Linked DNA regions of Homo sapiens: all the other regions are reported to be linked to region 1. Evidence: microRNA targets listed by miRTarBase, many of them from high-throughput screens and not tested one by one. Region 1 holds a microRNA gene; each other region holds the end of a gene's coding sequence.
Evidence for each region. Region 1 holds the annotated microRNA hsa-miR-4775 (UUAAUUUUUUGUUUCGGUCACU, at 1,297-1,318, opposite strand). A microRNA usually pairs through its seed, bases 2 to 8, with sites in the 3' UTR of a target mRNA and lowers its output. Matches are read on the target gene's strand: a 7mer-m8 pairs with bases 2 to 8, a 7mer-A1 pairs with bases 2 to 7 and ends in A, and an 8mer does both.

Region 2: the mRNA of NUP58 is a reported target of hsa-miR-4775. Seed matches in the 3' UTR shown: 7mer-m8 at 838-844 and 7mer-m8 at 2,125-2,131.
Region 3: miRTarBase lists TRIM38 as a target of hsa-miR-4775. Seed matches in the 3' UTR shown: 7mer-m8 at 1,597-1,603 and 8mer at 1,472-1,479.
Region 4: miRTarBase lists SPNS1 as a target of hsa-miR-4775. The part of its 3' UTR that is shown has no 7-base or 8-base seed match.
Region 5: miRTarBase lists AMOTL2 as a target of hsa-miR-4775. Seed matches in the 3' UTR shown: 8mer at 176-183.
Region 6: the mRNA of NMNAT1 is a reported target of hsa-miR-4775. Seed matches in the 3' UTR shown: 7mer-m8 at 787-793, 7mer-m8 at 1,036-1,042 and 7mer-m8 at 1,337-1,343.
Region 7: miRTarBase lists PRR15L as a target of hsa-miR-4775. The part of its 3' UTR that is shown has no 7-base or 8-base seed match.

Annotation. Positions count from the first base shown.
Region 1 is chr2:207,752,993-207,756,133 of GRCh38, reverse strand. MIR4775 (microRNA 4775) reads right to left here and starts at 1,327; the gene lies at 1,253-1,327. CCNYL1 (cyclin Y like 1) reads right to left here. Exons shown (of 10, transcript NM_001330218.2): 10 at 1-2,546. The coding sequence ends at 2,436.
Region 2 is chr13:25,339,928-25,342,927 of GRCh38, forward strand. It overlaps NUP58 (nucleoporin 58), which reads left to right. Exons shown (of 16, transcript NM_014089.4): 16 at 38-2,494. The coding sequence ends at 207. Among named protein-coding and RNA genes, the nearest start is that of ATP8A2, 31 kb to the right of the region's middle.
Region 3 is chr6:25,983,188-25,986,328 of GRCh38, reverse strand. TRIM38 (tripartite motif containing 38) reads right to left here. Exons shown (of 8, transcript NM_006355.5): 8 at 1-3,141. The coding sequence ends at 2,642. Among named protein-coding and RNA genes, the nearest start is that of LINC02980, 7.9 kb to the left of the region's middle.
Region 4 is chr16:28,983,737-28,986,736 of GRCh38, reverse strand. It overlaps SPNS1 (SPNS lysolipid transporter 1, lysophospholipid), which reads right to left. Exons shown (of 12, transcript NM_032038.3): 11 at 2,780-2,951; 12 at 2,194-2,532. The coding sequence ends at 2,438. It overlaps LAT (linker for activation of T cells), which reads right to left and starts at 1,685. Exons shown (of 12, transcript NM_001014987.2): 1 at 1,220-1,685; 2 at 997-1,024; 3 at 849-883; 4 at 521-602; 5 at 291-355; 6 at 168-197; 7 at 23-80. The coding sequence starts at 1,319. RefSeq lists silencers at 1,565-1,624, 1,645-1,924.
Region 5 is chr3:134,355,187-134,358,186 of GRCh38, forward strand. It overlaps AMOTL2 (angiomotin like 2), which reads right to left. Exons shown (of 10, transcript NM_016201.4): 10 at 161-2,577. The coding sequence ends at 2,519. Among named protein-coding and RNA genes, the nearest start is that of MIR6827, 11 kb to the right of the region's middle.
Region 6 is chr1:9,982,167-9,985,299 of GRCh38, forward strand. NMNAT1 (nicotinamide nucleotide adenylyltransferase 1) reads left to right here. Exons shown (of 5, transcript NM_022787.4): 5 at 135-3,133. The coding sequence ends at 535. Among named protein-coding and RNA genes, the nearest start is that of RBP7, 13 kb to the right of the region's middle.
Region 7 is chr17:47,950,447-47,953,569 of GRCh38, forward strand. PRR15L (proline rich 15 like) reads right to left here. Exons shown (of 2, transcript NM_024320.4): 2 at 1,521-2,817. The coding sequence starts at 2,788. The coding sequence ends at 2,477. Among named protein-coding and RNA genes, the nearest start is that of PRR15L, 5.9 kb to the right of the region's middle.

The sequences.
Region 1 (3,141 bases):
GAGAAATAAAAACCACATAAATTGTAGCATTCTTTTCAAAATAAAACTGCAATCAATACTTGAATCTCCAAACTCTGAATTCCATAAACAATATTTGTTTTTTTGAGGTGGTAGATTGTAATATTTGTATACCATTATTTATCATTTATGTCTCTGTCCTTTAAAAATGATGGAAACTGCAGCACAATATGATGTGAAGCATTGCTATAATAGAGGAAGTACTCCTGTCCCAGAAATGCTTTGTTTATAAGCAAGATTCCTAGGATTAGATTTGAGAAAGTAGGAGAAACAGATTTCACATAGTTGAGAACACTAACCTCTTCTTAGTATTTCAAATTTAGGTGACATTATCGGTCTCCTAAAATTATTTGCTCCTTGCCTTTTAAAGCCTGAAGAGTTCCTAAGGGTTATGTAAGTATTTCTTAAATAGCAGGACTTAATGGGACACCTACAGCTTGGTAGCATGTAGGATGATAAAACAGCTGTTCATATCACCTTCTATAATTAGGGTCCAATTCCTTTTATTACATGTTAATTAACACTGCTCTTCAAAATCTTCCTTTAAAGAAACTGCGGTAATCAAAGCATATAGAGCACAGCTCTGCGGGTAACTACTTTTAAAAAGAGGGCATTTTATGGAGATACAAGGTATTCCAAAAGTTCAGTGTAATTTTAAGCTTTGATACTTGTAGAAATATAAATGCTACAAACCTTTACAAAACCTTGTCTGAACATTTTTCTTCTGCTTTTTTCTTTGAGACAGGGTCTGGATGTCGCCCAGGTTGGAGAGCAGTGACATGATCATGGCCCACTGCAGCCTTGACCTCCTGGGCTCTACTGATCCTCCCACCTTAGCCTCCAGAGTGGCTGGGACTACAGACACATGCCACCATATCCAACTATTTTTATTATTTTTTTTTACAGGCAGGGTCTCACTATGTTGCCTAGACTGGTCTTGAACTCCTGCACTCAAGCAATCCTTCCACCTCAGCCTCCCAGGGTACTGAGATTACAGGCATGAATCACTATGCCCAGCCCATTTCTTTTGCATTTAATTTTGCATTTTTCTAAGAGATGGGGTCTTGATAACGTTGTCCAGGTTGGAGTGTAGTAGCTATTCCTATAGGCACCATCATGGTACACTGCAGCCTCCAATACTTGACCTCAAGCAATCCTCCAGCCTCAGCCTCCCAAGTAGCTGGGACTATAGGCGTGCACCACCACACCCAGCTTCATTTTGCAAATTTTGAATATAAAGCTTTTAATTTTTTGTTTCAGTCAATGTCTGCTATCAAGAGTGACCGAAACAAAAAATTAAAAGCTTAATATTCAGGAGACAGGTGCCAGTTGCACTTGTAGTCCCAGCTACTTGTGTGGCTGAGGCTAGAGGATGGCTTGAGACCAGGAAGTTCTAGGCTGCAGTGAGTGCACAATGATTGCACCTGTGAAAAGCCACTGCACTCCAGCCTGGACAACGCAGTAAGACCCCCATCTCTTTAAAAACAAACAAAACAAAACAAAAAACTTTCAAATCATGTTTTTTAAAGGTTTATAGCATTTATACTCATGCTGCAGTGCCTTGGAGGGCCCAAACTATATTCAAGCTTAAAACTGCTTCACTTTTTCTCATCGTCACTGAACCACCATGTTGGTTGGCATTATGAAAATATCTTTTAATACATTTATTTAGCAAGAGAAAAATTATCAGAAAATGAGAAGCACCATTTATAGTTCACAAGAAATGCAACATGGACTCCAATAGAAGTAGATATCAATAACTGATACTTCCTCTGTTTATGACCCCAAACATGCTAAAATGCTAAAGTAATGCTTGCAAAGAATATGAATGACAAATGTTATCCAGCAGCTTTTTGGTTTAAAATGATTGCCAATGACTAGCAGCTTCAATGGTAACAGTAGGGAGGAAGAACCCTTCAGTACCTAACAACGCTGCTGTCTGCTCCTAAGTGGCTTTAGTTAGAGTCCCATGTTTTAATGGTAATACTGCATTGATTTTAAAGGCATATGCAGCAAAATGCGGGGGGAGGGAGAGAAACTGGAAGAAACATAAAAGTTATATGGTTAGTGTCTTTAAAGTCTAAAAATTTAAACTATTGTTTAAAAAACCTTACATAGTTCACAGCTATCGGCCCACACAGTAAGCAAATATCTGTGTGTAGGATGGGAGCCTTCACTTTGGAGTGGTTTTTGTAACTCTGTTTACATTAAAAAGGACAGAAGAGTGTTTTGTTGCATTGACAAGGTCCCATTCTTTCCTGTGGAGTATAATCCTTGTTGTCCATGAGTCTCTTGAATTTGAGATCTTTCCTTTTGATGAAAACACTAATTTTGCTGGTTTTTGAGCAGGAAAGGTGGTATTTCTCCAGTCTTTGTAGATGAAGGTCCCATGACGTTATAACCCCTCATTTCTCCTTTTAAGAGAGGATGGCTTTAGAGCGCTGAATACCAATGAAGTTATCAGCACTGAAAGACCTTCTCATAGCGGCTCTACACAAGTCTTTGTCTTCACACAATCTAGAAATAGCCTAGGAAAGTCAATCAAATAGAAAACAGGTACAATTTTAAAAAGGGTTCCCGCCTTTGAAAGAGCACCATTGTGAAAGCCACACATGTGGACTCCTTTAGATAGTTCACAGTTACAGCTACTTTGGCTGAGTTTTACACTGCCAGGTTGTGGGGACACTACTTCCTGACAGTTCACCAAGGTAATATCCTTTAAGGGCTATGGTTAGATTCCCAGAGAACAAAGGGGAATTTATTATATTATTAAAAAACTGGATTCCCAAAGATATCAAAGGTATTGTGATAGGGCTCCTAACAGCAATAGCATCTGTTATCTGTTAACTTATTCCTTAAATATAACAAACGTACACTTGTGCAAAAAAATGTTTATTCAGCTATTCAAATTCTACCCAATCCTTATTAGCTATTATATACTCAAAGCACATTTTAATGAGGCAGGTGTGTGCTGGACTATACTGGAACATATGAGCGGTCTGATGACTGACGCGCCAAAAGGTATTACTTCACATGCACGTTAATTATGGTAGAAATACATATTATTATTTTTTTCTTTTTTTTTTTTGAGGCAGAGTTTCGCTCGTTGCCCAGGCTGGAGTG
Region 2 (3,000 bases), not on the chromosome of region 1:
AACTTCTGATATGAATATTTTTTTCCCTAAACATAAGGCTTTGGCAGCTCAAGTACATCTGGGTTTAACTTCAGCAATCCTGGCATCACGGCATCAGCTGGTTTGACTTTTGGGGTGTCCAATCCTGCCTCTGCAGGTTTTGGAACAGGAGGACAACTCCTTCAGTTGAAGAAACCTCCAGCTGGAAACAAAAGAGGAAAAAGATAAACATGGGTTGATGTGTTGAGAGAATCCATAGCAGCACCGTTCATTCTATGAGTCTATTTTTCTAATGATGCAGTAATTAAATTGCATCCCAGGAGATTTATAAAGTTTTGATATTTTTCCCTACTCTGGAATTTGAACTTTCTTCATGTTTGCCATACTGAACATCTTTTTTCTTGTGGAATTTAAAGTCCAGCTGTGTTTTCTTTTTAATTTGATTCTCAGTGTAAGAAATGTTCTGATTACATCACTGATTGGTAATGGTTAGAAACCATTAACCTAAAACTTACTATTTAACCTAGTGTTTTTGTTGATGAGGTTTACATTATGTGAATACATGCACATTTGTTTCTTATACAGGTGGTGTGAACTCTAGGGCCTATACTAGAATCAATTTGTTCCTTGTTAAAGGCCTTTTGAATTATACTGCAGGGCATCTTGTGAATATGTATGTAAATATATACAGAATAATACACACAGTTGTGTGTGCATATAAAATACATATTTACGCCAGGCGTGGTGGCTCACGCCTGTAATCCCAGCACTTTGGGAGGCCGAGGCAGGCGGATCACCTGAGGTCAGGAGTTTGAGACCAGCCTGACATGGTGAAACCCCATCTCTACGAAAAATACAAAAATTAGCTGGGCATAGTGGCGGGTACCTATAATCCCAGCTACTCGGGAGGCTGAGGCACGAGAATCACTTGAAGCCGGGAGGTGGGGGTTGCAGTGAGCCGAGATCACACCACTGCACTCCAGCCTGGGCAACAAGAGCAAAACTCCGTCTCAAAAAAGATGAAAATAAAATAAAATATATATTTACAGGCCTACAACTTTTGCCTCAGACTGTTCCCCTTTTCTAAGGGTATTCAAGTTTTCACCTTTTAAGCTTCATATCCTCAGTGCTTGTAGAATGATGAGCTTAGAGGTACCAGGTCATTGCAGTTGTTTGCTTAAAGACTTATTGAAATGGTTACTGGCGTAAATACTTGGCCAACTCAACTTTATTGCCCCTGATCTTTTCCATTTTTGTTTCCACCTTAACCTATAGCAGCTCCTCCAAATGAGGAATGCTGTAAGTAAGACTCATCAAACAGATTTTAACCATTTTATTATCCTGTGTGTCCTTACATTGCTTCTGTGAGATGTTTTTTTCTTATCTGAGATGAACTTTCAGGAGCCTATTTGAACTCCAGACTGGTGTTCTGGGGCAAAGAGCTATTAGCCAAACTGATTCTATGCAGGTGAAGGATGCACTAAAGTTCTCACTTTAGTGAGAACTTTTCTAGCTATTCCAATACAGAGTTCTTTCTTATAGGGCTATTGATATTGACACCAAATGGAGTGGCTTCTCAGCCTCTTAATGTCTTAAGTAAGTGCTTAATTTGGAATAGAGAAACCAGTATATTTTAAAAAAGAAAAATATTCTTTGTAGCAACTGTAAATTCTCCCATTATAACAGTGAACAGAGCTCCAGGTAATAACGCATAGGCATGTCAGGTTGCATCTGTATATTTGACTACATTAGTATTAGTGACATCAGGTGGATATAAAAGAAAACCCTTGGAAAGAGAACTGCCTTAGCCATGATTTCGTTAGTAGACCTATTTATGATTCAATTGCAATTTTCAGATAGGATGTGAACATGGAATTTCATTGAAAATAGTTTAATTTTTTATATAAAAGGTTTTGTATATAATGTGTGTCAGTGACTATTTTCAAAATCATTTTCATCAAGACACCTTTTTTCTAAAATAGGCATTGCATACACATATGCACACGTATGTGCATGTGCCACACATTTTTTGTATAATGTTGGGTTTGATTATAAAAGTGTTGTCAAATGTTTTATTTATCTGCATATAGCAGTGGTTGGCTTTTTTGAATTGAAATTTTTGCGCATTGATGCATTGAAATAAGGAAAATTATTTATCTCTGAGCACTAAACTTATTTTTGCATATTTCTGTAATATTGCAGTCCCCAGATCCAGAACATGGGAAGTTAGGGAAAATGTGTGATTTTGTGTTTTGAATTACTGTCAGAATTACATACACAATTACAACAAACTTTTTTTAAAAGACATTTCATTGTACTGCAAAAATCTGAATATTTATATTTCTTGTTTTTTTCTTTATATGTTTTGCATTTTAATATGTTGAGCCACTGGAAATTTGTAACAGATTAATTTGTTATAGGAGTTTAAATGTGTTGTCATTGTCTCCATTGTCTTTGTCCAGAGCCTATTATTATGGAAACAATAAAATTTATTGTGTCAGTTGCTTTGATTCTTTATAGGTGTCAGTAGCTGTTCTTAATATGTAATTTTATTATTGCTCTTTTAGTCTCCGGTTGGGTTTTAGTATATTCCCTTCATTGGTTTATACATCTTGCTCTTTTTTAAACAGAAGAGTGAACATAAGATAGTAAATTATTTCTCACTTGCTTTTGTCTTCTCAAAATGACAAAAACAGTGAACATTTTTAGTTATAAAGAATAATATTGAGTAAAAAAGGAAAAATCCCTTTGAACTTTTGGGCCCTAATTCCCTTCCATTTCCTAGTGTGCAGTCTGATGGTTTGATATGTATCCTTGTAGACCCTTTTAAATATGTCTTAAAAGAATATATAAATGTTACTTCTCTTTTCTTTTTCTTTTATATTCTCTCTGATTTTTTATCACATTTTATTCTCTTGGATCCCTCTTTACTTTTTTAACAAATAGGTTAAAAAGTTTGTGTTCTGGACTTGTTCTTTTTCCCTTCTATTAGTATATCATCAGCATCTTTCTGTGTCTATA
Region 3 (3,141 bases), not on the chromosome of region 1:
TCTCAAACTCCTAGCCTCAAGTGATCCTCCCATCTCAGCCTCCCAAAGTGACAGGATTACAGGTGTGAGCCACCATGCCTGGCTGCTCTGTAAGTGTCTGAATTTCATTTTGTATTTATCAGTCTGTTTAGATTTTCTTTCCCTTCTTGGGTCAGTTAGGCCATTGGTTTCTTTTTAAAGGTTTTCAAATTTATTTGCATCTAATTCTTCAAATTACTCTCAAAATTATTCCAGTATATATTCTTTTGTTCCTATTTTCTTCTGTATTCTTTATTAAAATAGCTAATGATTTATCTAGCAGGACTTATATTCTTTCCATAACTTTCCTGCACCCCAATTAATCTCCAATTTTATATTTCTTCTGGCCTTCCTTATAGTTTCCACAGGTTTATTTTATTCATTTTTTAAAACTTTTATTTAATTGTTTATTTTATTATCATTCTTTCTTATTCAGCAATCTAAGTGCTTAGGGATATAGAATTTCCTCTAAGCAGCATATGCTAGGCTTTAACAATGTTAGGGAGGCCTCCCCTTTCTGGGGAAGACCACACTTACATTAACACAGGACTGTGGGATGCCAAGAGGTAGAGAAGAGCTTATGAATATCCAGATTACATCTTCACTGATCCTGCACAAAGGTGGGGTTCCTCGGTTACCCACTGGGTCCTATTACCCAAGTCTGGGTCAGCATACCGAGACTACGGGTATATAGAACAAGTGCAACTGGCGATAATCCTTCTGTTGGGGAGAAAAATCTTTTTTTTCTATTCATCTTAGGTTCTCCATCTGTGGCCCTATCAAGTAGACTAACAAAAGACAGATTGACAAGACAGAAACAAAGCATGTGCATTGTACAAACACAGGGGAGTACTGAGATGAATACTCAAAAGAGGATTTAGAACTTGGGCTTATATAGCATTTTAAGAAAAGAATACATTTTTTAAGTGACAAGGAAGACGAAAAGGACTTTGAGTTTCTAGTGCAGTAAATTGTGGGAAGGCAACTTTTTCTTTCCCTTTTTTTTTTTTTTTTTTTAAAAAAAAAGACTTCTCTGGTGCTATGTCCAGGCTGATAAGAGTCTAAAGTCTCTGGTGACTAACTTTTGTTCTTCCCCGAGTAAGAAGACACCTTCACAATTTCATATCCTGCTTTTAGGCAAATAGGGAGAGGGCAGAGGTGTTTGTTTGTTTTTAATCTATTTTTTTTCTCAATTGTCTTCAACTCAAAATACTTCTTATGCCAAAGATGGCATATTCTGCTACCCTTCACTTACTACTTACAACCCAGCCTCTATCATCATAATTAGAACTTCTGACCCTGGGGAACATGGGCAATAGTTTGAACTCTTTTATATCTCCCTTAGGCAGAGATGGAGGCCCAGCCATGCCTCTGACATCTAGACACAACTGTTGCTTCATTTCTCCTATTCTCAGAGGTGATGTTGTAGGACTTCAACAAATATCAGTAAACATTAATTTTTTTTTTCCTTGAGGCACAGCATGATCTTGGCTTACTGCAGCTGCTGCAGGCTCAAGCAATTCTCCTGCCTTGGCCTCACGAGTAGCTGGGTTACAGGCCCCTACCACCATGCCCGGCTAATTTTTGTATTTTTAGTAGAGACAGGGTTTCACCATGTTGGCCAGGCTGGTGTTGAACTCCTGACCTCAAGTGATCCACCTGCCTCAGCCTCACATAGTTCTGGGATTACAGGCGTGAGCCACCATGCCTGGCCATCAATTTTTATGTCAACTCTAAATTATAACATTTAGCAATTTTGTGACTTTTTATGGTCATCATTAATGTTGTTTATGTTTTAGTTGTAGTCCTGTCATTACTCACTCGGGTATGGTAATTTGGTCTTTTTCAAAATGAAGTTAAGGTCTATTTGCTCTTCTCTGAATCATAATAAGAACTGCCAACAGCCATTTCAGCAATAACTATTTACTGAGATTTTAAAATATTTCAAGGTAATTGGTCCTAGCAGACTGGAAAATACCAAATTCTTTTCCAGAACTGAATCCCCCATCAAAGTTCAATTTTACTCATAATTCCCTTTTCATTTGAAGCATCTCATTGTAAGCCAGTCTTAACCCTTCTCTCACACTTTGCTTGGCTGTTTCTCAGGTAGAACTCAGTAAGTCTGGTAGCCTCCAGGACTGCCGCTTAGATTATTAAACAACATGTCAGTGGTTGGAAGAGTCAATGTTATTTTGATTTTTCTGTTTTGTTTTGTTTTAAATGCAGTTGGCGGATAATTGCAGCTTTCTTTCATTCCCTACATGAGTTCAAATGGCAGCAAACAAACTAGGAGAACGCAGACCTTCTGACTTGTGGGTACCCCTACTCATCACCTGAAGACCCTTGGAAATCAAAGCCCTGACCCATTAAAGACGGATGGAGACAGCAACATACGATCATCACTATTATCTTGCTTTGCCCCAGTCCAGGTTAACCATCTGTGGTATTTTTAGTTGCTAAGTCCATATATTCAACATAAATCAATTATATATCCACTAAAATCTCAGCACTAGTCTAACTACTAAGGAAATGACAGCGAAGAAAACAGACCAAACGTCTGCCCTTATGGGATTTATATTATTTTCTCTGTGCTGGTTAAACCAAGGAGCTTCTGCTCTTTTCCTTAGTCACCTGGGGGAGGCAGAAACAAAGGAGAATATTGATAAACCTGGAAATAGGGCCGGAGAGTATCAGAGAAGGAAGCCTTCGGGAAAGTAAAGATGTGGCAGCCAGTATTCCCGTTATAAAAGGATACAACTCCGGCCTCATAGTCCAGAAAAATTCCCACAAGCAGGGGCTGCTCATGCAGATGAAGGGAAGTTGGGGGAGAAGTAAGTGCTACATAGCCTTTCTTTTTGCACAGCCTGAGGGTCCAGAATCCAGACTGAGGCTCTTGCTTCATGCCAGTGCCCCTCTGCACATTTTCCATACAAACTCCTAAATCCCATCCGGTTCCTTCGCCAACATCCACTTCAAAGTAACGTCTTCCTGAGGTGAAGCCTTCACAACCCAAGACACAGGGGAAGGCAGTAAATCTCCTGGAAGATGTGTCCTGATTCTCCTGGGTGTATCCACGAGTCACTTGTCTCCGATCCTCAGAGAGAATTAGTTCGTGATGAGCTG
Region 4 (3,000 bases), not on the chromosome of region 1:
CACCTCCCACCTGGCCACTCACAGGTAGCCTGGGTTGTGATAGTCGTCCTCATCCTCATCCGCATCCTCACAGGCTGGTTCTGGGGGTAACGACACAGGGGTCAGCCTAGTCCAGGACGGACCCCAGACTCCCCACCCAGCCTGGGCACCTCGGATCCCAGACGCACCCTCGTTCTCGTAGCTCGCCACACTGTTGGCTTCAAAGAGAGGGTGAGAGGGAGACTAAGTCAGCTCAGGCCAGGCCTATCTTCTTCCCAGCCCCCGCCGCCTGAACCCTTCCCCACACTTACCACCATCAGAATCCCGCCGGGAAGATGGCGTCCGGTGGGAGCCCCCAAGGGGCTGCGGGGATCTTCTGGGAGTCAAAGGTCAGGGGTCATGCCTGAGGTGGGGCTCAGGGGGCAACAGCAGTTGCAAAAGGGAAAGGGGCCCCCAATCCAAAAAAGTGAAGGGGTAGAGAGTGGAGTTTGGAGGGGGAGGGGCTGAGCTTTGGAGGGGCAGGGGCTGAGCAGCTACTCACGGGATGGGGAGCAGGTCTGGCTGGCTCAGGGGTGGGTAGGAGGTGACAGGTGGGTAGGCAGGTGGCCAGGGGGCAACCGTGTCTGAGGACACAGAACCAAGTTGAAAGAAGGACTCCGGACATCGTCAAGGCCTCAAAGAACAGACTAAGCCCCTGAAAGCCCCACACCCTGGACAGGCCTGGGGGAGCCATCTCCCCTCTCCCAGCTCAGGTCAAGGCCATGTGGGCAGCCCCAAGGTGGCAGGGGAAGTCTGAAGGTTCACGCTCACTCCCACACCAGGGGACCCTCTCCCTGGCACCCAAGGTAGGGGACCCTCCTTGTACTCACGAGGCCGTTTGAACTGGATGCCCCTTGGATACAAACTGGTAAAGGAGACACAGCTTGGGGATGGGGCTGGAAGATGGAGGATGGAAGCCCCAGCCCTGCCCCGCCATGGGGTGTGGAGGGAGACCCAGGGCGGCTGGGGCGGACTCACCTATCTGAGGATGTGCTGTCGTAGGAGCCTGGGAAAGAGAGGGCTGGTGAGGCAGGAACAGGGGGTGCTTAGGGCAGAAGGTGCTGGGATCCAGGGACTCTCAGAGGCGCTGGGATCAGGACGGAGGCAGGGACAGAGCCAGGACAGACACAGGGGCTGGGAGTGGATGAGGATCCCGTCGGTGTCCCTGGGCCCTGGGTACCCCCACCAGTTTCCCACTCACCTGGCAGTCTGTGGCAGTGCACACACAGTGCCATCAACATGGCCAGGATGGGCAGCAGCAGGAGCCCCAGCACGCAGGGGACCAGGATGGCCTCCTCCATCTGCAGGGGAGCTCGGAGCAGGCTGGCTGCACCCCTAGGCCCCTCAAGGGCAGAGTCAAGGCCAGATGAAGATGGGGTGAGGACCGGACCCGGCAGGGAGCAGGGGGCAGGTAGGCACCAGGTGGCAGGGGAGCCCGGGAGGAGGCAGCTGTGCCCTCCCCGGGGCTCCCGGGATGGGTCCCCTCTTTTACTGGGCTGAGTGTGCGTCCAGCTGACTGTGGAAAGTCCCTGCTCCCAGGGTGGTCAGACCAGGGCCTGGGCTGAAGTCGGGGGATCCAGTTACCCCTGCGTCCCAGCCCTACCTGCCCCTCCTCGGCGCCCGCCTCTCCGTGCCCGCCCTCCCGCCCGCCTGCGGCAGGAAGCTGTGGTGAGCGCCGGGCGAGGGCAGGAAATCATCAAGCTCTCAGCCGGCTGCACCCGCCCCCTTCCCACCCCACCCGCCAGTGGGGAGGGGGCAGGAGGAGGCCCGGGAGCCACCCCAGGCACTCACCAAGGGTCTGCTGGCCCCCCCCAAGACGGGGACAGCCACCTGCCAGCTGGCAGCCGTGGCCTCCATATCCAGGACCCGGGGAGGCAGCGAGCAGGGAGGCCCTGACAGTGGGAATTCTGGGGTACAAAGGGCAGTGCCCACCCCCACCTCAGCCAGGCCTGTGAGGCAAGGGACAGGCTCCAGGGAAGCAGGGGCGTGACTCACGGTCACACTCAGCCAGCTCACTCGGAGAAGAGCAGTCCCCCATCTCAGTCGCCCAGCCCAGAAGGGCAGAGACTCACCCAGAGCCCTGAGGAATGACCCACAGTCTTCAGGAGCCCTGGGGTGAAGACGGGGTGCAAGATCAGAGGCCACCCAGAGAAAGACGAGAGCAGGCACCTGGGGTCTGGCTACAAATTTTATTCCGTTACAAATAGCACCGAGCCCTTGGGGCTGCCCCTGTGGAGAGGGATCCCCCTCCTGGACCCCCACCTCCTCCCCTGAGCTACCCAGGTAGTGTCTGGGAGCTGGCACACGGCCCAGGGTCCCTCTGGAAGCTGGGCCAGGCCAAGGGGTTAGGCCCAGGCCCTTCGTGGGGTGGGCCCAGGGCCAGCTGTGGCAGATGTGCAGGTAGGTGAGCGGCAGCCTCTCAGATGAGCACACTGGCCACGGGCACGCGGGTGGAGCGGCCCCGCTGGGGCACCACAATCCGGTCGTCTGTGGACCCTGCTTCGTGCAGCAGGCCTGAGGGGGGAGGGTCAGAGCCAGGGTGAGCTGGATGGACAGACAGACAAAGCCAGAGAAGGGCAAACAGGCAGCGGGAAATGGATGGGGCAGCCACAGAGCCACCCCAGGGGTGGATGCAGACAGACTGGAGGCCAAACAAGGGGAGGGCTGTGGACTGAGCTGCCAGGTGCACAGGAGTGGGCAGACAGATGGACAGACAGACAGGCAGATCAAGAAGCTGGGCCGGGCACAGCTCCTAACTGACCCTGCACGTGCAGCTGTGCCCGCCGGCGGTCGGCCTCAATGAAGATGGCGGTGCCCAGGAAGGCTGCGCCGCCCAGTGCCCCAACAAACGCGCAGAGCATGAGCGAGAACTGCAGAGCCCGGAACTCGGACAAGAAGGAGGGGGGCCAGTTCCGGCGCAGGCGGTCAGAGATCTGCAGGGAGAGGAGACAGGAAAGCCAGGGGAGTCAGCCTCATGGATGA
Region 5 (3,000 bases), not on the chromosome of region 1:
AACTGTTCCTGTCACATGTCACGTAGGCTGTCTGGTAGCCTGCTGCTGCCTCATGGCCAGCTAACTGCTGGCCACATGCTGACTGGGAACCTCAGGGTCCTAACACACTTATAGAAGCACAAGACAGGTATTTTGTTTCTGATACAAGAACAAGCAAGACTGAGAATGGCTTTCTTTAATTTTGAATTGGAGCAATATGCTTTCCTGAGCATCAGGAAAGAGTGGTGATGTCACAGCAAAGGAGGGAGGCGGTGGCTAAGAACATGCACATTCTTGAATGTCCTCTGCATGGTGCCTGGCCTTCTGGATGGTTTCGGACAAAACTTTATGTGCTAGGTGGGAGTGGGAAAAGGAGTGGGGGAAGGATAAAGCCATCTTTGGACACCCACTCCCACTGTGGATAACCACAGCGTGTGGCCGAACAAAGCTGATTAGAACACAGCCCTACCTCGGGAGGCTGCCATCTGCCAGGCCCTCCTTCCCCTCCCAGCCTTCAAGAAATGTTATCTATGAAAGGGGAAAAATGCCAGCCACATCCTCATTCCAACTCTATCCTTAATGCAGCTTCACAAAATTCCTAAATTCTATCTTGGGTCCTTGAAGAGATTGGACTATGACTTGGGTGGCCCCCCAAAATCCTCACCCTTTCCCTTCCCTCAGTGCAAAGTCTCACCTGTGCAAAGACATCACTTTTAATTATTTTTTTTTAATTAAAATACTGTTATACCCAGTGGAATGCGGCAGCAATCCTGGTACAGGGTGGCATAACAAAACAGCCATGTTTACATTTTAAATATTTACGATAACTTAAACATACAGACACACATCATGGTCTTTGGCAGAAAATGTTCACAGCACAAAAAATACTTTAAAAGAAATACCAAATATTAATCCAAAATATATTAAGTTGTTTTTTTTCTTTCACAATATTTTTTGCCTTTTTTTCCTCTTTTTTCTTTTTGCTTTGTAAACAATGCACATGAACCAAATGTATTTTTCAGCTTTAAACAGGGGTAGGGGAATTTTTTAAAAAAAATTGCAATTGTCCAGCAAATGCAAATGTTTAAAAAGGAAACTTGAGGAACCATGGAAATAAAACAACACATACCAAACCTAAAAACGATAAAGGAAGAAAACAAAGAATCAAGGAGAACTAAAAACGGTAAAGACAAAACTGCTAAAACCCACCAATAGCTCCTGGGGCTGAAGTGAGGGACTCTTTAAGACCAGAAGTCAAAGTCACTGCTGCTAGCAGGCTGCCATGTGGGTGTTTCACCCCAATTCCAAAGCATCTGGTGCTGCTTTAGGGCGCTGGGCATGGGTAGCTTGAGGAGCCAGCCTCCTGGGCACTGTTTTGTGATGGGGGCTCCATTCAGAGGACTATTTGACTCTTGTAGCTCATTAACTAGTTTTCAACTGCTTTGCTCCTCTCCCAAACCCTCCAGGTGGGAATGAAGACACTTATGCTAACAAGACATCTCCAGTTTCTCAGAAAGAACTGGTACCGGGTAGGGCCACCGAAGCCCACCTGGGGGCATGGCAGATGTCTGTTCACGGTGGCTCATTTCATCTGGCTCAGGGTTTATGACCAAACTGACAGGATGTTCCAGGGACAGGAGCTGTGGAGCCACTTCAAGAGGCTGGTGGTGGGGGTCCCGTGGGCATTTATAGGGCTCAAGATAGAGGAAAAGGCAGCCGAGATCCTGGGAATCGAGCAGCTTTAACATCCACGGGCCAGGAACTTGAGGAGGAGGCATAACTGGGAGGCCAGTCAGAAGTTTCAGAAACTGACAGTAGGAAGAGGGGAGCACAGCCCATGGAGACACATCGGAACCTGCAGGCCTCAGTCTTCTGTTCCACAAGAAAGGGAATTATATACAAACTGCGCACTGTCTCCCAGTCCACTTAAATGGCCCCTCACCCACAGCAAGTGAGAAGGTGAGGCTGTGTCTTCTCCAAGACTAACACCCTTAATAGTCCCCAAAAAATTCAAGTCTTAGTATCCCAAGAAGGCAGTGAGGAACTGAAGAGCAGATGACGTTGGCTGGAACCAAACTTAGCCAGAGAACAATATGGCTGACTTGATTAGTGAACCAGTCCACCTGGTGTCCACGGGCAGCCGTCCGTGGAAATTAGTTCCCCAAACCAACACAGCCACTCCCTCCCTGCCTGACTGACAACTGGCAGGGCAGAGGGAGCTCAGCTCCTTTCTGAGCTGTCAGTTGCTACCCCAGTAGCAGGCCTTGGGCAAGAAGTCAAGGCTGAATCCTCATTCTCCATAAGGCCCGGAGGAATGTGGGCTAAGAAGCAGAGTCTTCTGGGGGTGCCGGTGCTCTCACAGCTCTCCTCTCCCCTGGGGTCCTCCTCCTGAGCTCCTGGGACCAGATGGTCAATGGGAATGAGTGTCTGGCTGGGGAAAGGGACGGAGCAGCGGTTGACGGGGCTGCTGAAATGGCTGAGAGTGGCACAGGGCAGAGGAGGGGAGAGAATGGCTCAGAGTCCTGAAGCACCACCTCCTTCAGATCAGTATCTCCACCATGTCTGACAAGTCCTGGACTCTGGATGTAGCTACAGAGTCTGGAGACAGACAAGAACACAGGCACATGCCAATGAGTGTTACTAGATTGCTTTTAAAATCCTGGCACATTTGAAAGACAAAGATCGTTCTTCACCAACTTTTCCCACCTCTGCTGCCCAGGTTCCCAGAACTCGGCCAACCAAGCACAATGCTCTGCCCCCTTTCAGTGCTCAGCCCAGCCCACCAACCTCCGATGTGTAGGATGCATTTGTTTCTAACTTTGAACTGGTTGGAGGGCTTAGAGAGAGCAATGGAGAGCCCTGAGGGAGGCAGGCTGCAGCATTCTTTTCATGCCTGTGGTTTTCTGAGATCATGAGGCACAGGCAAATATGCAAAGGCCAATGTGAAAGGGGAGTGGAAAAAGAAATGGCATCTTCTCAGATTTCTCCTTCCCGGACTCTTTAAACAGGCTTCCAGAGTGC
Region 6 (3,133 bases), not on the chromosome of region 1:
CCCTCATCCTTGAAAAGCACATACGTATCTTCATTTTGATACAGTGGGTTATTAGAAAAGTAAACCCCTTTCCACTTGGAGGAGGTAGAGGGGAAGAAAAAGCATACCCCAAAGCTCTGTTTTATTCTTCCCAGCTGTGCCAAAGGTCAAGCTGCTGTGTGGGGCAGATTTATTGGAGTCCTTTGCTGTTCCCAATTTGTGGAAGAGTGAAGACATCACCCAAATCGTGGCCAACTATGGGCTCATATGTGTTACTCGGGCTGGAAATGATGCTCAGAAGTTTATCTATGAATCGGATGTGCTGTGGAAACACCGGAGCAACATTCACGTGGTGAATGAATGGATCGCTAATGACATCTCATCCACAAAAATCCGGAGAGCCCTCAGAAGGGGCCAGAGCATTCGCTACTTGGTACCAGATCTTGTCCAAGAATACATTGAAAAGCATAATTTGTACAGCTCTGAGAGTGAAGACAGGAATGCTGGGGTCATCCTGGCCCCTTTGCAGAGAAACACTGCAGAAGCTAAGACATAGGAATTCTACAGCATGATATTTCAGACTTCCCATTTGGGGATCTGAAACAATCTGGGAGTTAATAACTGGGGAAAGAAGTTGTGATCTGTTGCCTAAACTAAAGCTTAAAAGTTTAGTAAAAATCGTCTGGGCACAGTGGCTCACGCCTGTAATCCCAGCACTTTGGGAGGCTGAGGCAGGTGGATCACGGGGTCAAGAGATCGAGACCATCCTGGCCAATATGGTGAAACCCCATCTCTACTAAAAATACAAAAATTAGCTGTGTGTGGTGGCACGTGCCTGTAGTCCCAGCTACTTGGGAGGCTGAGGCAGGAGAATCACTTGACCCCAGGTGGTGGAGGTTGCAGTGAGCCAAGATTGCACCATTGCACTCCAGCCTGGCGACAGAGCAAGACTCTGTCTCAAAAAAAAAAAAAAATTTAGTAAAAATCAATGGTAAGCTAAAATAAGTTTTTGTTTGTTTATTTGTTTTTGAGATGGAGTCTCTACTAAAAATACAAAAAATTAGCCAGGCATGGTGCCGCATAACTATAATCCCAGCTACTTGGGAGGCTGAGGCAGGAGAATCGCTTGAACCCGGGAGGCACAGGTTCCAGTGAGCCAAGGTTGTGCCACTGCACTCCAGCCTGGGCAAAAAAGCAAAACTCCATCTCAAAGAGAAAAAAAAAAAAGACCGGGTGTGGTGGCTCACACCTGTAATCCCAGCACTTTGGGAGGCCTAAGTGGGTGGATCACGTGAGGTCAAGAGTTCAAGACCAGCCTGGCCAATATGGTGAAACCCCATCTCTACTAAGAATACAAAAAATTAGCTGAGCATGGTGGTGGGCTCCTGTAGTCCCAGCTACTTGGGAGGCTGAGGCAGGAGAATCGCTTGAACCTGGGAGGCAGAGGTTGCAGTAAGCCAAGATCGTGCCATTGCACTCCAGCCTGGGTGACAGAGCGAGACTCCATCTCAAAAAAAAAAAAAAGCCTGACAGCTAGCAGGTTTCAGGATCCATCTGCCAAGTTAGTGAAAGGCTGGAGCCTCAAATCATACAGATGAGGGTCATTTTCTCCTCCTTAGCTTCTTGGAGTTTAAGAGTTGAAGGAGTCCTGAAAAGTAATGATAGAGCAAGATGAAGCTATCAGAACTGAATTTGGACTTCCTCTGGGAAACTACACCTAGTTCATCTGAAGTGTCACGTAAACTGCAGAAAGTTTCCAATGCTGGAAACTTCTCTCATACTATCGTGCCTTCCTACTCAGAAGTGCCTGTGCCCTGCTCAGCTGTGACTACTGACCTCAGGACCTCACTGGACAAGGCATGTGGGGACCCTTGCAGGAGCCCTGGTAAGGGTACAATGATCCTATTGTTTTTTGTTTTTGAGATGGAGTCTCACTCTGTCTCCCAGGCTGGAGTGCAGTGGTGCGATCTCCGCTCACTGCAACCTCCGCCTCCCGGGTTCAAGCAATTCTCCTGCCTCAGCCTGCTGAGTAGCTGGGATTACAGGCACCCACTACCATGTCCGGCTAATTTTGTATTTTTAGTAGAGATGGGGTTTCGCCATGTTAGACAGGCTGGTCTTGAACTCCTGACCTCAGGTGATCTGCCCACCTCGGCCTTCCAAAGTGCTGGGATTACAGGCATGAGCCACTGCACCCAGCCTGATCCTATTGTTGCACTATTTATGGAGCAACAACTTTGTACAAAGAACAAGCTTTGTACAGAGAACAAGCTTGGCTTTTTCTCCCAACGCCGAGGATGCTGTTGATGCTGCCACGTAATAGCATAATTTTGGGTGTCCTCAAGGACAGAACTTCCACTTTGAATAATGGAAGTTAGAACAATGAATTTCACAGGGGAATAAATATTAATGACTGACGTGAAGAAAATATGCCATTGTTTATTCCCTCCTGCATCATTTCCATAATTTGCTTTTGTACTGTCAATTTAGAGGAAATGTGTGATGCTGGTGTTTTGTTTGGCCTGTTTGTTTGATGCTGGGGGTTTTATGTGTTGTACCCTTTACCCCTTACATTGTGTAATTTGAAAGTGGCAAACAAACCTGCAGTAAAAGTCCTTGATTGGCATCTTCATTCGGATGATGGAGAGCCTTTGTGGTAGTGTTTGCTTATGTGAACAGCAGGCCTTTCAGATAAGAGAAGTGGCTTTTCCTTGGTGATGAAGGGGTAGAGATTGAGCCATGGGGATGGTTTAGGTTAAAGAATGCTTTTTTTTGGCCATCATGAGGATCTAACAACAGAGTAGAAGGAAGGATGCCCTAGGTCAGCATGCAGGGTGGTGGGAGGGCTTTCATCTTCCTTACCCAAGCCTCTCTTTTCACTTTTCTAGAAGTCCAGAAGTTGTTATATGATGAAATAGCCTCCTTTAACGTTTATTTCTGGGTGCCAACGGAGGCCCATTCCTCTAACATTCTCATAATTTTTCTCAAAGGCCTATGATCTAAACATTTCACCACGGCATCCACTCAGCTGTGAGGCTGCGTACACAGTCTCCACCTCTGAAATCTGAACTTCGTTTACCAGTGGTGCTGTTTGAACTTCATAATGTCAGCACTTCCTGAACACTTACTGTGTGCTTGGCTTGTGCTCCTGAGT
Region 7 (3,123 bases), not on the chromosome of region 1:
GGTGAGACCCTAGAAAGTTCTGTGTAGTGGGACGGGGTAGGGGAAAGAGGCTTTGGGTAAGGCAGCACCCCTGAGCCTGACTTCCATCCCTCCAGCTCCTGGTCTCCCTTACTCATCATTTGAGGTCCCCCTGGCTGGGACGAGGCACCTAACAAAGCCTCCCTTGTATAGGTCTGTTTGTTTCACTAATAAATTCCCTGAGCAACAGCTCCTGGGGTGGGGTGGCCCAGCAGCCTGCCAGGAGCTGACCTGGAAGCCGCAGGACCACATTGTTTAGTGGCCACCTTGGTCTCTCCCTGTATTTCTACCACGAGCTCCAGAGATTTGGCCAACATTTTTTTAGTTCCCAGCTCTTATGGCTTGAGAAAGAGCTGGACCTAACCTCATAAAGTGACAGCTTTCTCTCCTCTTTCTTATTTATTTATTTATTTATTTTTGAGACGGAGTTTTGCTCTTGTTGCCCAGGCTGGAGTGCAATAGAGCTATCTCGGCTCACCGCAACCTCGGCCTCCTGGGTTCAAGCAATTCTCCTGCCTCAGCCTTCCAAGTAGCTGGGATTACAGGTATGTGCCACCACACTTGGCTAATTTTGTATTTTTAGTAGAGACGGGGTTTCTCCATGTTGGCCAGGCTGGTCTTGAACTCCCAACCTCAGGTGATCTGCCTGCCTCAGCCTCCCAAAGTGCTGGGATTACAGGCATGAGCCACCGTGCCAAGCATCTCTTATTTATTAATTTTTTTTTTCCCCTAGAGATAAGACCTAGTTCTGTCACCCAGGTGGTAGTGCAGTGCCACAATCATGGCTCACTGTCGTCTTGAACTCCTGGACTCAAGCAACCCTCCCACCTCAGCCTCCCAAGTAGATAGGACTACAGGCATGTGCCACCACAGTCAGCTACTTTTTGTTTGTTGGTTGGTTTTTTTTTAGACATGGGGTCTCTCTATGTTGCCTAGGCTGGTCTCAAACTCCTGGGCTCAAGCAGTCCTCCCACCTCAGCCCCCAAAGTGCTAGGATTACAGGCCTGAGCCACTATACCCACCTTCTCCTTTTTCTTAAACCAAAGCTGTGGGGTATGGTGGAGTTCCTTATAAAGGAAGGGGGAAGGAAACCAGTATTAAACTGAGCACTTACTATGGGACCTCTCATAGGCCACTTAATACTGACCACTCCCTATGAGATAGGTATTATTTCAGCCCCCTTTTACAGAAGAGGAAACTGAGGCTCAGAGTACAAGCAAATGTTCCCAAGGTCACCCAGCTACTAAGGGGTAGAGCCCGAGTTTGAATCTTAATCCCAAACCAAACCACTGAAACTTTGGGGTCAATCACCAAAGGTCTGCCCTACTCTCTTAGAGCACCTGACGGGCTCTCTGTTGACTGGAGAGAACTGACCACTGAGGTGTAACTAGCTCCTTCTGCTGCCCCATCCCCATACTAAGGCTAGTTTGATGGTAAAAATTAGTGACCCAGTTCCTACATTGTCACACCTGGGAACCCTTCCTGAAGCTTGAAAGGAACAGTTTGAGCACAAAGGTCCACTTTACTTACATGAAGGAACATAAAGGCATGAGAAACAGTCATCTCAATAAATGCAAGACATGAGCATAAAAGAGGTTCTCTGCCTTTCCAGCGTTGTTATTACAGAGAGAAACCTACAATTATTTTGTTAAACAAAATTCAAGGCTCCAGGACTCATCTCTGGAGCTGATATGTCTTAAATACTATTATAGTAGGAAAGGGAGAGGAGAAAATTCCCCACCCACTCCCCCGATTTGGCCCGTGTAGCTTCCCTTTGAGGGTGTGTGACTTGCCATCTGCAAAAGTCATGGCCAAAACAGGAACTAACAGGCCAAACTACCATCAATCTAGTCTTCTACAGCACCCTAACAGAGTGCCAGGGTCCTCTGTCCCCTCCGCACCTGAGGGCAAAGTTCCAGGAAGTTTACTGCCGGTGTTAGGAGGTGAGCTCAAGTTCAGTGTCTCTGCCTCTGGCTCCACAGAAACCAGCCCCTATCACGTGGCTTCTGGAAAATGTGCCCTCCTCAGGATTGGTCCAGGGAGTAGTCACAGGTAGAGAAAGTAAAGGGAGCAGCAATTGAAACTCGCCCTTGACCCTGTGTCCAGTAAGGAGGTGAAGTCTGTCTGGCTCACTCTCTCCATTCCCTGCCATGCCCACCTCCCTGCTGGCCCTGCCATTGCTTCAAGGAGGGCTGTTCCTCCTGGGTGAGACTTTTCACTCTTGAACTAGAGTGCCTTTGTATGTGGTCAGGGGGAGGGTGGAGGACCCTGGGATCTCCCAGGCCTTACAAAAGTGGCGGCACATAAATACAAACCTAAAAAACAGCCATTTCCTGCCAGCAGGTATCAACTGGCCCCACAGCTTCAGCTATGGCCAAAGAGGCCAGCGTGGCAAGGTCCTGTCTCAGATCTGGCTGATGGCAGGGAGCCAAGAGGTGCTAGCACCCTCCTCAGCCCTTCACTTTGATGACCGTCCTTCCTCGTGATCATCAAAGAGGTTAGGGTTCTCTGCCAGCGTGGCTCTCACTTTCTTCTTCTCCTTGAAGCGTCCTGAGTTGGAGACCTTGACGTGCTTGCCCTTTGTGCTCTTGTCCACAATCTTCTCCAGGCGGGTGTTAAAGTCGCTGTTGGGGCCTCCAGCGTCAGGCCTCGGGGGTTCTGCATCTCCCTCTGTTTGGGCATAGGTGTCAGGGATCTCATACAGCACTTTGGGAGTGGATTTCTTTTTCCGGAGGAAAGTCAGCTTCCACCAACCAATTTCAGTCGTCATGGCGCTCCCTAAGCCAAGGATGGGGCTTTCTGCTGGAGCAGGGTGGGGGAGACAAAGGGGTCAGTGGGAAAAGGGGGTGGGTGCCTTTGGACCAGCTTGCTGCAGACTCCTAATCATGGGCTGTTTTAAGAATTAAATAAAGGGCTGGGCGTGGTTCTTCATGCCTATAATCCCGGCACTTTGGGAGGCCAAGGCAGGTGGATCACCTAAGGCCAGGAGTTCAAGACAGGCCTGGCCAACATGGTGAAATCCCGGCTCTACTAAAAATACAAAAATTAGCTGGGCGTAGTGGCACGCACCTGTAATCCCAGCTACTCGGGTGGCTGAGGCAGGAA